Regions from separate parts of the Homo sapiens genome. Here region 2 is linked to region 1. The links come from fine-mapping of genetic effects on gene expression. A gene starts in region 1. The other region holds a variant in brackets. All regions are shown on one strand. Distances are between the middles of the regions.

Evidence for each region. PIP is the estimated chance that this variant, and not a neighbour inherited with it, causes the effect.
Region 2: its variant is fine-mapped to the expression of OAZ1 in whole blood (TOPMed, PIP 0.97).

What each region holds. Positions count from the first base shown.
Region 1 is chr19:2,264,800-2,273,120 of GRCh38, reverse strand. OAZ1 (ornithine decarboxylase antizyme 1) reads right to left here and starts at 3,635. Exons shown (of 5, transcript NM_004152.3): 1 at 3,377-3,635; 2 at 1,591-1,736; 3 at 1,167-1,339; 4 at 301-386; 5 at 1-149. The coding sequence starts at 3,522. The coding sequence ends at 13. LOC105372240 (a long non-coding RNA gene) reads left to right here and starts at 3,868. Exons shown (of 2, transcript XR_936242.3): 1 at 3,868-4,019; 2 at 4,249-4,628. RefSeq lists silencers at 105-254, 1,794-2,133, 2,144-2,343, 2,554-2,613, 3,579-4,068 and enhancers at 455-514, 525-584, 3,322-3,936, 6,432-6,601.
Region 2 is chr19:2,362,657-2,370,977 of GRCh38, reverse strand. The region is part of intron 1 of TMPRSS9 (transmembrane serine protease 9); the gene reads right to left. Among named protein-coding and RNA genes, the nearest start is that of TMPRSS9, 6.6 kb to the right of the region's middle. The variant C/T (reference allele first, on the strand shown) is at 4,264.

The DNA of each region.
Region 1 (8,321 bases):
CCCGAGGCGGCCCTACTCCTCCTCCTCTCCCGAAGACTCTCTCTCGAACGTGTAGGCCATGAAGCAAGCGTCGGGTCTCTTGGGGACAAGGGGATGCCCCGGTCTCACAATCTCAAAGCCCAAAAAGCTGAAGGTTCGGAGCAAGGCGGCTGCGGGGGAGAAGCCGTCAGAACCCCTGCCGACCAGAACCCCCCGCCCGCACCCCCCACCCCCGCAGGGAGACCGTGCCTGCGGGCTGAGAATGAAGGGGCGGCGCAGGCACCCCCACGCACCCTACTGCAGGCGATACGGGTCACCTACCTCTGTCCTCGCGGTTCTTGTGGAAGCAAATGAAGACATGGTCGGCTCGCAGCTGCTCCTCAGCGAACTCCAGGAGAACTGCAAAGCTGCAGCGAGTGTCAGCGTCTCGGCTGGCCCGACCCACCTGCCTACCTCCTGGGCCTTAGCAGCTACCCTGAGGCCCGCTCTACTCCAGGGTCCCCCTGGGGCCCAGATCGTCCTCTGGGTGGGGCCGTCCTGACACCACAGTGTTGAGCAGCACCGCTGCACCCACCCACGTGCATGCCCCATGACAGAAAAGCTCTGACACTGCCTGGCATCCCTTGGAGGGTAGAATCCCAGGGTACGAATTTGGAGTGCACTTTTTAAAAAGGGACCCCAGGCCGGGAGCGGTAGCTCACGCCTGTAATCCCAGCACTTTGGGAGGCCGAGGTGGGCGGATCACGAGGTCAGGAGTTCAAGACCAGCCTGGCCAACATAGCGAAACCTCGTCTCTACTAAAAACACAAAAATTAGCTGGGCATCGGTGGCGGGCGCCTGTAAGCCCAGCTACTCGGGAGGCTGAGGCAGGAGAATCGCTTGAACCCGGAAGGCAGAGGTTGCAGTGAGCCAAGATCATGCCACTGCACTCCAGCCTGGGCAACAAAAGCAAGACTCCATCTCAAAAAAAAAAAAAAGGGGGGACCCTGTCCCCACCAACAAAGCGATGGTGGCCCCCATATGTGCTGCCTGAAGGCAGTGCCCTCCCTCATCTGTCCCTGCACCCCTTGGGCAGCAACCCGCACCTGGTCCCTGCTCCCCTGGGTGAGCACTCCCCGCCTGTCCTTGCCCCTCACCTGGTCCCTGCTCCCCTGGGTGAGCACTCCCTGCCTGTCCTTGCCCCTCACCTGTCCTTGCTCCCCTCGGGCAGCGCGCCGCCCGGGATCTCGATGTAGAGGCTGCCGCCACTCAGCACTGTTCGCCAGTTAATGCGTTTGGCGTCTGTGAGCCTGGACTGGACGTTGAGAATCCTCGTCTTGTCGTTGGACGTTAGTTCCTCTGTTACATTCAGCCGATCATCCTGTCCAGGGGGTGCAGCCCAATTCAGAACCCTGACTCACCCCACAGGACTCCAAGAACCCGGCAGCGCTAAAGCTTGGGCCTAGGCCGTGTTGAGCTCAGGCAACGCCTGGGCTGCAGGAGACTGTGCGCCGGCTCTGATGAAACTCAGGGTTCCCACGATTACATTCAATCACAGGTACGGGCAGCAAGGTGCACAAGAAAGTACCTGTGGCCCCAGAGCAGCCCCAGCAGGCCCGGCCCCATACTCACGGAGTAGAATAAGTTAGCTGAAAGATTGTGATCCCTCTGACTATTCCCTCGCCCACCTGGGATCTTCAGGGGTGGGTGAGGGGCATCAGGAGCACCACCGAGGCCCCGGACCCGGGTTACTACAGCAGTGGAGGGAGACCCTGGAACTGAAGATGATGCAGGTCACGAGGCAGCGCCAGGCTCCGGGCGGAGACCCCTCCAGGGCGTCCGGGCGGCCTTCAGCACATCCCCACCCCTGCCTCGGCCAAAAGACCCCGCCCCGCCCAGGCAGGGGCCCACCCGGTCCCACACCCCCGAGGCTTCCCGAAGGCAGCTCCAACGCCTGCCCCAAGCACCTACAAGGGCAGCAGTCACTGAGCCCCGACTCCTCGGGCGGCGCCGCCCAGGACAGCCCAACCTTCCCAGGGCGGGGGGCCCCTTCCCCTCACGCAGCCCCGCCGGGGCAGAGCCTCACCCCCCGGCCACCAAGACAGCCAGCGCTTCCCCTTTTCAGTTCTGTCGCGGCTTCCCCTTTCCACCCTGCACTACGGCCAAAATCTGGGACTCTTGCTTGTCCCCGCGAAGACCGGGCGGGCCTAGCCTGACCTCATGGAGGACGCGCCCCGCTCCGGCTCCCGGCCGCCCGCCCCCCCGCCCCCGCTCCAGGCCCGGGCCCTCCCGGTTGCGTCATCCAGGCAGACGCGGCCTCGCGCCCCGGGGGAGATTTTCACAATCGCGCAGCCGGCAGCGCCAGCAGCCATTTGCTGCGCAGGGTAAACAGGCCCCAAAGTTGCCTCCATTTTGCACGGCCCCCAAACCGCGGCACCGCCAGCACCGCGGCCCAACCTCCCGATCCGGGGCTGAGCGACGCCCACCTCGGGGGACGCAGTCGGGAAAGCTCGACCGAGACCCCGCGGGCTCCCCCACAACCGCAGCTGGCACCCGCGCCCCCGGAAGCGGGACGCGTCTTCCCGGGAAGCGGCGGGGGTCTTCCCAGGGCGCTGCCGGGCTGTCGGAGTGCGCCACCCCCAGCTCCCCGGCGGCCCCCGCGGAGAAGCCCTGGGTGCCGTCTACGTGCGCGGCCTCGCCCGGCGCGTCCCGGGCCATCCAGACCGACTCGCTCAGGGGCGAAAAACGGGGCCCACGAGGTCCGTCGCGTGCAGGGGCCACATCGAGGCAACAGGGACCCGCGGGAGCTCGTCCACCGCAAAGCGCTCCCCGCTCCCGCAGCGCACGCTCGACGGCCGGGACCGAAAAGTGCAGATTCACCAGCCCCGCGGGCCCTGCCTGTCCGCGGACCAGCCCCCCAAGGCCGACCCCGCCCCCAACCAGATTGCCCCATCCTGCGCCTCCCAAATCCGACCCGACCGCACACCCTTCCTCCAAACCGAATTCCCAGTCTGCGCCCCGCAAATCCAACCCTCGACCAGAAGCCTCTCCCCTCCTCCGAAGCCGAGTCCCATCCCGCGAACCCCGCAAAAGACACACGCCTCCCCCGACTCCCCGTCCTGCGCCCAAATCCGACCTCCGACCCATGCCCCTCCCGCAAATCAGGCGCCCCGGACGGTGCCCCCCAAATCCAACTCCGCACCCTTGCCCCCCAAACCCGACTCCCCCGAGAGCACTGCTAAGGCCGGGGGGGACCTCCAGGCCCGCCCTGCGCCTACCTCGTCCCCGGCGCGATTCTGGCCTTGACAAAGGGGCGGATCTCGCGCGCCGGGGACCTATCTGGCGCCCCGAGGACGGCCCCCCGCAGGCCTGCGCGGCCGGCGCTTCTGGAAGCTTCGGACGGGGGCGGGGCACTTACCTCTCACTGCTGCTGCCGCCGCGGCTGTGCAGGCTTAGGAGCGGCATGGTGCGGCTGGCGTGGATGGTGGCGCTGGGTTTATCCCCTTCCTTCTCTCTGGCGAAGCAGTGGCTATTGAGGATCCGCTGCAGGGAGGATTTCACCATCCGGCCGCTGGGGTCCGAAACCAGGAAAACCTCCGCTGCGTCTCTCCGCGCCGCCGCCGCTGCTCGCCGTTCGCAAAATGGCGCCTCTGCCGCCGCCCGCCTTTATAGATGCTGCGCCCAGGCCACGCCCCCCGCGCCGCCGGGAACGCGACCGCACGAGGGGCAGAGCCGCGGGGCCGCCGGGAAAAAAAGTCGCGCCCGCCCCTCCCAGCGCCTGATTGGTGAAAGGGAAAGGGAAAGGAAGAGGCTCTCTGGAGATTGGTTGGTGAGCCTCGGGCCACGCCCCCTCCTGCGCGCGTCCTTCTGGGGGCGGGGCTGCCGTGGCGCCGGGTACGCGCTGCGCGCGCCCCGAGCCGTCCCCGCCCCCACAATCGTGCCTTGGGGGCGGGGGCGGCTCGCTGGGGCCGATTTTCGGGGGTCTTCGAGTGCCCGTTTGTCTGTCGTGGTCCACGTCGCCCTCCCTAGGGTCCCTTCACGCAGCGGGACCCCTCCCCTGGGTAGGCCCCCGGGTGCTTGGGGGGTTGTCCAACCGCGCCAGAATTATTTCCAGTAACACCTGGTAATCATCGATGATATTACTGGTTTTATTTTTTTAAATTTGGTCTTGCAGTTCTTAAAATGCTTCCAGTGTTTAAAAAAAAAGAACTTCCAATGTTAAAGATATTCAAATTTAGTAAAATATTTCGTGTACAATTTGGACTTAAGCAAAAATTTTACTCCTTGCAGATAAATTCAGATTTTTCCTGTGGAAACTGAAACTTACCCTAAGGAAAAACACTACTCCTGGCAGTTAAAATTCAGAAACACATCTCATGTATGAACTAAAATGTGGATCTCCCAAGGAAAAAACGATTTCTTTGGTGGTCAAGTTCGGTAAACTGTTTCGCCTGTGAGGTAAAATGTGGACTTACCTAGCAAAAATATTTCCCCTCCTGGTTAAATCCAGAAAAAAAATCTCAGGTATGAACTGCACTTTGCTTTTAATAAGCAAAGATATAACTCTTGGCAGTCACATACGGGTACATAGCTTGTGTGTAGACTAAATTATGAATTTAGCAAAAAGTTGCCACTTTGCAGTGAGGTTTAATAAAATATTTTTTATTTCATGTATAAACAAAATTTTGTTCTTACCAAGCAAAAATGCTACTCCTGGCAAATCCTGATTCCTTTCATGGTTTTAATTTTGTTTTGTTTGCGACCGGGCCTGGCTGTCACCCAGGCTGGAGTGCAGTGGCGCAATCTCGGCTCGCTGCAACCTCCGCCTCCCAGGTTCAAGCGATTCTCCTGCTTCAGCCTCCTGAGGAGCTGGGATTACAGGTGCCCGCCACCACGCCCGGCTAATTTTTGTATTTTTAGTAGAGATGGGGTTTCACCATGTTGGCAAGGCTGGTCTGGAACTCCTGACCTCAGGTGATCCGCCTGCCTCGACCTCCCAAAGTTTGGGGATTAACAGGCGTGAGCCACCGCGCCTGCCTGTCTTTCGAGATTTCGTACTGCACCAGAAGGCTGTTGTTGCATCTCTGCTACGAGCATTCGCTATTCAGGTGTTGAGGCAGAAATTAACTCCTGCGGTTGACATTTGGGGCCGCCCTGGGCACTGCAGGGCGCTGAGCAGCGTCCCTGGCCTCCACCCACTCCATGCCTTGAGCACCCCCAGTTGTGACAACCACAAGTATCCGCAGACATCACCCAGTGTCCCTTGGCGGGGGCAGAATCACCCTGGGTGAGACTCCCGAGTTAGGGGATTCCACGGACCCCCCCAAGAGACTCTGCATCCCATGATCCTCTGCCCTGCTGAGGTCCCAGGAGACTGCGCACGTTGAAATCCACACCTTGAGGCAGAGGTTGCAGTGAGCTGAGATGGCGCCGCTGCACTCCAGCCTGGTGACAGAGCGAGACTCTGTCACAAAAAAAACAAAAAAAAAGCAATCCACACCCTGAGTGGGGAAGGAGAGAGGAGAAGCATCCCAGGAGCTGGGGGCCTCCTGGTTTATACCGTTTGCCCCATTAGGAGTTTATCCTGAGGCTGGGCACGGTGGCTCACGCCTGTAATCCCAGCACTTTGGGAGGCCGAGGCGGGTGGATCACGAGGTCAGGAGTGCAAGACCAGTCTGGCCAACATGGTGAAACCCCGTCTCTACTAAAAATACAAAAATTAGCTGGGCATGGTGGCGCGTGCCTGTAATCCCAGCTACTCAGGGGGCTGAGGCAGGAGAATTGCTTGAACTGGCACCCGGGAGGTGGAGGTTGCAGTGAGCCAAGATTGCACCACTACACTCCAGCCTGGGCTACAGAGCGAGACTCCATCTCAAAAAAAAGGAGTTTATTCTGGTGTCTGGTGTGAGCAGAGAACAGACTCTGTTTCAAATAATTAACTCAGGGTCTCCTCCCTCGGACCCGTGGACATTGGGCTTGGATTGTTCTCTGGGGTGGGGCATCCTGGGCAAATGGTATGAACCAGGAGGGCCCCAGCTCCTGGGATGCTTCTCCTCTCTCCTTCCCCACTCAGGGTGTGGATTGCTTTTTTTTTTGTTTTTTTGTTTTTTGAGACGGAGTCTCGCTCTGTTGCCAGGCTGGACTGCAGCGTCCTGGGCACTGCAGGGTACTGAGCAGCGTCCCTGGCCTCCACCCACTCCATGCCAGGAGCACTCCAAGTCATGACAACCAGAAATGTCCCAAACATCATCCAATGTCCCTTGGGGGCAGAATGACGCCCCTAAGTTGAGGACCTCCTCTGGGAACAGAGGCAAGAGCCTGCTCGAAATGAACAGGTCACCGGTGCGATTTCCAGAACAGCCACGACCAGGGAGCCCCATCCCTCCATCCTGACTGCAGCAGCTCTCACTTCCTCCTCCTGCCTGCCTCTGATGGCCGCCTGCCAATGCTGTGAGGCTTCTAGAAGGGCCACCCCCACACTGGCCAGGCCACGTGGGATGAGCGCTAGGATCAGCAACTGCGCCCTGCTGGCCCACCTGGCCGGGTTCCCCAGAAACTCCCCAGGGTGGGAGGTGCTTTGCTGGGAGCTGGGGAGTCTGTGACTGGTGAGGGGCCTCCCGGACAGCAGGGAGAGAAAGAGGCATATCTTTCTCTGGAGGTGGTGAGGCTTGAACTGTCTGAAAGGGACAGCAGAGGATGTGGGGTGGTCAAGGATAGAGGGCCCATGCCTGGGTTTTCTTCTGAAATCAAGGTTGAGGGGATACGGCTGCTGGCAGAGGACGCAGAGAGTATGACTCTGATTGATTGATTGATGGACTGATTTTTTTTTTTTTTTTTTGAGACAGAGTCTCACCTGTAGCCCAGGCTGGAGTGCAGTGGCGTAACCTTGGCTCACTGCAACCTCCACCTACAGGGTTCAAGCGATTCTCCTGCCTCAGCCTCCCGAGAAGCTGGGACTACAGGCGTGCACCACCATTCCCGGCTAATTTTTGTGTTTAGTGGAGACAGGGTTTCACCATATTGGCCAGGACGGTCTCAAACTCCTGACTTCATGATCTACGTGCCTCCCAAAGTGCTGGGATTACAGGTGTGCCACCGCACCTGGCTGTTTGGTTTTTGAGACAGAGTCTCACTTTGTCACCAGGCTGGAGTTCAGGGTCATGATCTCGGCGGCTCACTGCAACCTCCCCTTCCCAGGTTCAAGTGATTCTCCTGCCTCGGCCTCCCAAGTAGTTGGGAATTACAGGCTCACGCCACCAGGCCCAGTTAATTTTGGTATTTTTAGTAGAGACGGGATTTCACCATATTGGTCAGGCTGGTCTCGAACTCCTGAACTCAGGTGATCCACCCATCTCACCCTTCCAAAGTGCTGGGATTACAGGCGTGAGCCACCGCACCCGGCTGACTCTGATTTAAAAGAGGGTATGTGGGCCCGGTGTGCACTTTGGGAGGCAGAGGCAAGAGGATCGCTTGAGCTCAGGAGTTCAAGACCAGCCAGGGCTACATAGCCAGACCCCATCTCTGCAGCAAATTTAAAAATTAGGGACATGGTGGTGCACACCTGTAGTTCCAGCTACTCCAGCGGCTGAGGCAGGAGGATCCCCTGAGCCAGGAAGGTCAAGGCTGCAGTGAACTATGGTCTCTCAACTGCACTGCAGCCTGGGTGACAGAGGGAGACCTTGTCTCTAAAAGAATTATAATAATGAGTTAAATAAAATAAAATGTAAACAGGTAAAAATAAAGAAGGATTGGGGCCGCGCACAGTGGCTCACGCCTGTAATCCCAGCACTTTGGGAGGCTGAAGCAAGAAGATCGCTTGAGCCCAGGAGTTGCAGACCAGCCTGGCCAACATAGCAAGACCCTATCTCTAGGTTCTCACTTTGTTGAGAATTTTAAAAACTTCTAGAAATTTTAAAAAATTAAAAAAATTTTAATTAGCTGGGATTGGGTGGGCATCTGTGATCCCAGCTACTTGGGAGGCTGAACCAAGAGGATCACTTGAGCCCAGGAGGTCAAGGCTGCAGTGAGCTGTGATCACACCACTGCACTCCAGCCTGGGGGACAGAGCAAGACACTGTCTCAAAAAAAAATGAAAGCAAGCAGGAAAATGGCCAAGCGTGGTGGCTCACGCCTGTAATCCCAGCACTTTGAGAGGCCAAGGCAGGCGGATCACGAGGTCAGGAGATCGAGACCATCCTGGCTAACACGGTGAAACCCCGTCTCTACTAAAAATACAGCAAAAATTAGCCGGGTGCGGTGGTGGGTGCCTGTAGTCCCAGCTACTCGGGAGGCTGAGGCAGGAGAATGGTGTGAACCCAGGAGGCGAAGCTTGCAGTGAGCCGAGATCGCGTCACTGCACTCCA
Region 2 (8,321 bases), 98 kb before region 1:
GCATTTTTTTCTTTTTGAGATAGGGTCTGGCTCTGTCACCCAGGCTGAAGTACAGTGTTATGATCTCGGCTCACTGCAGCCTTGAACTCTTGGGCTCAAGGGATCCTCCTGCCTCAGCCTCCCGAGTAGATGGGACTACAAATGCATGCCACCACGCTGGGTTAATTTTTTTTTTAAGTTTTTGTAGAGACGAGGTCTTGCAATGTTGTCCAGTCTGGGCAATATATATATAAAGAGAGACAGAGAGAGAAAGCAAAAGCAAAAGAAAGCAAAAGCTGAAGGCTGGATTCATCCTGGGTGAATTACCCATCTCATTATAATGCAAAGTCCATTTTAAACCCAAGTTTCTGGCTGGGCGTGGTGGCTCACGCCTGTAATCCCAGCACCTTGGGAGGCCAAGGAGGGAGGATCACTTGAGGCCAGGGGTTGAGACCAGCCTGAGGAACATAGCGAGACCCCCATCTCCACAAAAAATAAAAATAATGAGCCAGGCATGGTGTAGCCTGCAACCTGGGACATCTGGCCAACCTACCCACTTTTTTTTTTTTTTTTTTTTTGAGACAGAGTCTCACTCTATCACCCAGGCTGGAGTGCAGTGGCGTGATCTTGGCTCACTGCAAGCTCCACCTCCCAGGTTCACACCATTCTCCTGCCTCAGCCTCCTGAGTATCTGGGACTACAGGCTCCCGCCACTGTGCCTGGCTAATTTTTTTGTTATTTTTAGTAGAGACAGGGTTTCACCGTGTTAGCCAGGATGTGTATATATTTTTTTGAAATGAAGTCTCTTGTCACCCAGGCTAGAGTGCAGTGGCACAATATCAGCTCAATGCAATCTCTGCCTCCTGGGTTCACGTGATTTCCTGCCTCAGCCTCCCAAGTAGCTGGGATTACACTGGTGCCCGCCATCATGCCCGGCTAATTTTTGTATTTTCAGTAGAGAAGGGGTTTCGCTATATTGCCCAGGCTGGTCTTGAACTCCTGACCTCAAGTGACCTGCCAGCCTTGGCCTCCCAAAGTGCTGGGATTACAGGCATGAGCCACTGCATTTGGGCATCCCCAGTTGAGTTTCTGATGAGACCACAGCCCAGCCAACACTCTGACTGCAGTCTTGTCAGACCCTGAGCAGAGGATCCAGCCAAACCATGCCCAGCCACCCAACCCACAGAAACCACAAAACCATGAGACAGTAAACAGGAGGTGTTTCAAGTTGCTACATTTGTGGTAATTTGCAGAAAACTAGGCCAGGTGCAGTGGCTCAGGTCTGTAATCCCAGCACTTTTGGAGGCTGTGGCAGGAGGATCGCTTGAGCCCAGGACTTTGAGATCAGTGTAGGCAACATAATGAGATCCCATCTCTAAAAAAAAAAAAAAAAAAAAAAAATTACAAATTAGCCAGGGTGGTAGCACACACCTGTAGTCCCAGCTACTTGGGAGGCTGAGGCAGGAAGATCACTTGAGCCCAGGAGGTTGAGGCTGCAGTGAGCTGCGATCAAGCCACTACACTGCAGCCTGGGTGAGGGTGACAGAGCAAGACCCTGTCTTAAACAAACAAAAGCTAATACAATCATTAACAGGCTTCTTAAATTTGACACTGACCAAACTGAGCTCTCATATCCCTCCTCAGTCTCCTCTTCACAAAAATGCCTGCTCCTCCCACAGTCTTCTCAGCTCAGACAGCAGCTCCACTTTCGTACTCACCCAGGTACAAAAAAATTTTTTTTAAAACCTGGGTTTGGCCGGGCACAGTGGCTCACGCCTGTAATCCCATCACTTTGGGAGATGGGTGGATCACCTGAAGTCAGGAGTTTGAGACCAGCATGGCCAACATGGTGAAACCCCATCTGTACTAAAAATACAAAATTAGCTGGGTGTGGTGGTGGGCGCCTGTAATCCCAGTTACTCTGGAGGCTGAGGCAGGAGAATCACTTGAACCCGGGAGGTGGAGGTTACAGTGAGCCGAGATCACACCTTTGCACTACAGCCTGGACAATGAGAGCAAAACTCTGTCTCAAAAAAAAAAAAAAGAATTAGCCGGGCATGGTGGCGTACACCTGTAATCCCAGCTACTCAGGAGGCTGAGGCAGGAGAATTGCTTGAGCCCAGGAGGCGGAGGTTGCAGTGAGCTGAGATTGCGCCACTGTGCTCCAGCCTGGGCGACAGAGTGAGACTCTGTCTTTAAAAAAAAAAAAAAAAAAAAAAAAAAACTGGGTTTATCCTTGATGCCCTGGCACATCCCAAACCCAGTCCATCCAAAAACGTTGTCAGACCGTCTGCAGGGTAGCTCTAGAATTGGGCCCCTACGCCATGTCTAGCCTGGTCTAAGCAGGGCATCGCCCAGGCTCACAAAATGCCACTTCCATCTTCCCCTCCCTGGGTCTATTCTCAACGGGAAGCCTCAGGGAGACAGCTAAGACCCGCGTCAGGTGACATCCCACCTCTGCCCAAACCTCCCCACAGCGACCGGGTCTAACTGTCCTCATCTCCAACCCCTCCCTCCTTCAGCCCCAGCTTCACTGGCCTCCTCGCCGATCCCCAAACATGCACAGCATGGTCCAGCCTCAGTGCCTTCAAAGGCACAGGCTGTGTCTCCTGCCTGACATCCTCAGCTATACCCTAATGTGCCCTTCACATTCTCTGCTTTTTTTTTTTTTTTGGTCTCTCAAATTTTGCAAACTGCACCCATGGGAGTAGATGGTAGGATGGTTTCTGCCACATGCAGAGCCTGGAACTGCTTAATTCCCATTTGTCTTCCCTTAACCATTGGAAAAGGGGAGCCAGGAAAAACGCAGCCGCCATGTGCAGTCTCTCCGTTCCGTAGCCTAATGCCTCCTGAAAGAGCAAGTTATTTCCCTCTGCCTCTCCGGCCCCACAAATCCAGAGAGTTACAATTTGATAACTATAGCTGGCACATCATTCCTCAAGAGCTGTAACACTGAAAAATATACCTTTAATAAAAGTAAGTGGATAAAGCCAGGCATGGTGGCTCATGCCTATAATCCCAACATTTTGGGAAGCTGAGGCAGGTGGATCACTTGAGATCCAGAGTTCGAGACCAGCCTGGCCAACATGGTAAAACCCTGTCTCTACTAAAAATACAAAAATTAGCCAGTCATGGGCTGGGTGCAGTGGCTCATGCCTGTAATCCCAGCACTTTGGGAGGCCAAGGTGGGTGGATCACCTGAGGTCAAGAGTTCAAGACCAGCCTGGCTAACACAGTGAAACCCCATCTCTACTAAAAATACAAAAAATTAGCCAGGCATGGTGGCAGGTGACTGTAGTCCCAGCTACTTGGGAGGCTGAGGCAGGAGAATGGTGTCAACCCGGGAGGCAGAACTTGCAGTGAGCTGAGATCGTGCCACTGAATTCTAGCCTGGGCGACGGAGCAAGACTCCCTCTCAAAAAAAAAAAAAAAAAAAATTAGCCAGTCATGGTGGTGCACACCTGTAATCCCAGCTACTTGGGAGGCTGAGGCAGGAGAATCACTTGAACCCAGGAGGCAGAGGTTGCAGGGAGCCAAGTTTCCACCACTGCACTCCAGCCTGGGCAATGGAGCAAGACTCCATCTTGAAAAAAAAAAGTACATAAGCATTTTCTATGTGACAGGTGTTGTATTAAACAATATTTACAGTCATCATCTCATTTATTGCCACATTTCTCCTATGAGACTGGTTCTATTCTGACCAAAGATGAATTGGAGGCACCGAAGAGTTAGGTAACTTGCCCAAGGTTATAGATGTGGTGGTTTTTAAATATCTCCAAAAATTATTTGCTATCCTCACCTAGCAGAGCCTAATTTCCCTCTCCGAGTGTGTGTTGGACTTATTGACTCACTTGTAATGAATAGAATATACCAGAAGCAATGGATCTAGGCTTCTGAGGTTAGATCATAGAAGCACTATGGCTTTGTTCTTTCTCTCCCTTGAATCACCAGCCCTGGGGGAAGCAAGCAGCCATGTTGTCAGGATGCTCGAGCAGCACTATGGTGATTCCCATGTGGTGAGGAACTGAGGCCTCCCACCAACAGCCACATGAGGACACCAGCTTTGAAGTGGCTCTTCCAGGCCCAGACGAGCTTTCAGATGAGGCAGCCCTGGCCCATGTCTTTTTTTTTTTTTTTTTTTTGAAATGGAGTCTCGCTCTGTCGCCCAGGCTGGAGTGCAGTGGCGCAATCTTGGCTCACTGCAAGCTCCACCTCCTGGGTTCACGCCATTCTCCTGCCTCCGCCTCCTGAGTAGCTGGGACTACAGGTGCCCGCCACCACGCC[C/T]GGCTAATTTTTTGTATTTTTAGTAGAGGTGGGGTTTCATCGTGTTAGCCAGGATGGTCTTGATCTCCTGACCTTGTGATCTGCCCTCCTCAGCCTCCCAAAGTGCTGGGATTACAGGCGTGAGCCACCGCACCCAGCCCCTGGCCCATGTCTTAACTGCAACCTCATGAGAGACCATGGGCCAGAACCACCCAGATAAATCACTCCCAAATCCTTGGCCCACAGAAACTGTGACAGAATAAATGTCTGTTGTTTTAATTGGCTAAATTTGAGAGACATTTGTTATGCAGTAACCAAAAACTAATACACAGGACGGCAGGTCCCAGGGCTCTTCTGTCTGGTGTTCCTTATTTACTTTTTTGGTTTTTGAGATAGGGTTTCACTCTGTCACCCAGGCTGGAGTGCACTGATGCTATCACAGCTCACTGAAGCCTCAACCTCCTGGACTCAAGCAATCCTCCCACCTCGGCCGCCTGAGTAGCTAGGACTACAGGTGTGCACCACCACACCCGGCTAATTTTTTAAATTTTTGGTAGAGACAGGGTCTCACTCTCTGCTTTTAATGGCCAATGTTTTCTAGTTGCTCAAAACCATGGTTCAACCTCTCCAAGGAGAAATTCAGGGGGTTCCCTTTTTTTCCAAGCAGTTTCAATAAAACCCAAAGGTTCACCTCAGCTTCATTCTTGAGCTTCTAAATTTCTTCTCTTCTCTTTCTCCATCTCTTTTTTAAAATTATTTATTTATTTATTTTGAGACAGAATCTCACTCTATCACCCAGGCTGGAGTGCAGTGGTGTTATCACAGCTCACTGCAGCCTCCAACTCCTGGGTTGAAGCAATCCTCCCACCTCAGCTTCCTAAATAGTTGGGGCTATGGGTGCACACCACCATGCCTGGCTCATTTTTTTAGTTTTTGTACAGATGGGGTCTTGCTATGTTGCCCAGCTGGTCTCAACTTCCTGTGCTCAAGTGATCCTCCTGCCTCAGCCTCCCAAATAGCTGGGACTACAAGCCTGCACCATCATGCCCCCAGCCTCGGTCTGGGCTCTTTAGCTGTCTTGCCCACCTGTCTGTGTAGTTTTTTTGTTTTTTTTGTTTGTTTGTTTGTTTTTTCCTTCACCTAATCCAAGATGATCACAGTTTTCGGACACGTCCATCCCATTCGATTCCGCATCTTTGGTCCCACGGCAGCCAAAGCCCGTTTATAGAACAGACAGCTGTTGTCTACGCCATGGCCTCTCTTATTTCTTCCTGTCCCCTGTCCTCAGGCCTGAATCTAGTCAGGAAATCCTCCCCTCCTCCATCGCCCCAACATCATGAAATAAATCACTCAGCAAGCCTACAGGAAATTTAATAAGCTTGGTCTCCTTTTTTTTTTCATTTTGTCTATGGTCTTTTTGTTAGGCTTTCATGGGAAGAGGTGTTTGTGAGAAAACTATTTGCAGCAATGGTATCTTGTGTTCTTTTAGCTTTATAATGTGGACAGAGGAGAAAGGAGTCAGTAATCGTGTGGGAGGGAAGACGCCGATAAACATGAGTGATACTAAGGGACCCAGAGGAAAACGCAGAGATTAAAAAATAACCTTCCAATCACTTATGAGTTGTATCATTTAAAATTAATACAGCTCCTAAATGCAATGTGGGATCCTGGATTGCAACGTAGAACAGAAATATTGGTGGGAAGACAGAGTGTGGCACCCACAGTCGTGCGTCAGTTTTGCTCTTTTTTTTTTTTTTGAGATGGAGTCTCGCTCCGTCGCCCAGGCTGGAGTGCAGTGGCGCGATCCTGGCTCACTGCAAGCTCTGCCTCCCGGGTTCACGCCATTCTCCTGCTTCAGCCTCCCGAGATTACAGGCGCCCGCCACCAGGCCCGGCTAATTTTTTTTGTATTTTTAGTAGAGATGGGGTTTCAGCGTGTTAGCCAGGATGGTCTCGATCTCCTGACCTCATGATCGGCCCGCCTCAGCCTCCCAAAGTGCTGGGATTACAGGCGTGAGCCACCGTTCCCGGCCCAGTTTTGCTCTTTGTTCTGTGGTCAAAGGTGTCAACGCAAGGGGACACTGGGTGGAAGGTGGGTGTGCGGGGACTCTCTGCACCATCTTCACAACTAAAATTATCCCCCCCAATTTTTTTTTTCATAAAGGTAAAGTGTAAACAAAACAACAAAGGGCTGGGTGCCGTGGCTCCCGCCTGTAATCTCAGCACTTTGGGAGGCCAAGGTGGGAGGATTCCTTGAGCCCAGGAATTCAAGACCAGCCTGATCAACATAGTGAGATCCCATCTCTGCAAAACAACAACAACAAAGGAAGCCTTATGCAGTTATGAGTGGATCACCCAGAATATGTTATCCTCTGCATCCATTTCAGAGCAACACACAGAAACATCAATGGCTTAGAACAGCCTGCAGGGCTGCGTCAACCATCAACTTCAATAAAACCCCAAGGTTCGCCTCAGCTTCATTCTTGGGCTTCTAAATTTCTTCTATTTATGCGTCTTTCATTCATTCATTCATTCATTCATTCACTTATTTATTTGAGACAGGGTCTCACTCCGTCACCCAGGCTGGAGTGCAGTGGTGTGATCACAGTTCACTGCAGCCTCCAACTCCCGGGCTCAAGCGATCCTCCCATCTCAGCCTCCTGAGTAGCTGGGACTACAGGTGCTGGGTCTACAGGACTACCGGGAGGCTGAGATGTGCTTATACCAACAGCGTCCTGTTGGTGTAGGGCTCATAGGCTTATGAGAGTTGATCCAGCCCTCCCAATAATCCCAGGGTATACAGGAGACAGGTCCAGCTAATATCAGCATGCCCATTTACAGAGGAGGAGATTAAGGCTCTCTCTGCCTCTCCCTCCCTCCCTCCCTCCCACTCTCACTCTCTCTCTCTCTCTCACACACACACGCGCGCACGCACACACACACACACTCACACACAGAGTTCTTGGAATTCTAGTGACTCCTCCACATTGCTGGGCAGCTTCCCTGTTATGCTCCCCGAGAACCCTGCTCCCCAGCTAAGCCAGGTGAGCCTGGGGGACCGAGGGGCGCAGGGCCGGGAGCTCTAAACCCTGCCCCAGTGTCGGCACCCAGGGTCCAGTCCTGCCTCCCCAAGCACCAGCTCCATCACCCACAGTTGCACGCACAGATGCACGGGGAATCACGCGACCTCACTCCCTCCCACACTCTCGCCTGTCCCCCCACCCCCCCACAACTGCTCCTACCTCAAATCTCCACCCATGTGTCTGCCATCAGAGAAGGGACGCCTTTGCCTTCATTCCGCCCTCACCTGCGATCCATCTACCATGCCTCCACGTCTCCGCAAAGCCCTTAACCAACCACAGTGACAACAGGGTTTGAACTCCGATGCTCCAGCGTTCCTGCAAGCTCTCGCCCCGCGGACAGAGTCCCCAGCCTGGGCAACCGGCCACCAACACCTTTTGCCTAAGGACTCTCCAAGCTCCGTATTTTACACCCTAAACATTCCAAATTCTGCAAAGGGAATTTTAGACAGTCCAAGAATGCTCTTTAGGGACGGGACCCAGCGCGCAGTGGGCCACATGGTCCCCAACTCACGTTCACACGCTGTGGGCAGCGGGGCACACACGGACTCCCATTCCGCGTGGCAGGACAAGCAGGCGGCGTGAGGCTCTGCAGGGCCCAATTACCCCACGGTCAGGCCAGCCTGAGCGCTGGGACCCTGATCCCCATGCCCCAGATGAGAAGACTAGGAAGAGGGGATTTGCACACACAACCACAACCTCACACAACACACACACAACACACAACCACACACAACACATTACCACACACAACCTCACACAACCAAACACAACCACACATTACAACCTCACACAACCACACACCACAACCACACACACCCTCACAAAACACACCTCACACAACCACATACAACCACACACAACCTCACTCCACCATCCACAAATTATACACAATCTCATCATGCAAGTACACACACAACCACGTTACAACTCCACAAATCTCACATACAATGACCATACAGCTAAACACAACTTCACACATATAGTCATACACTGATAC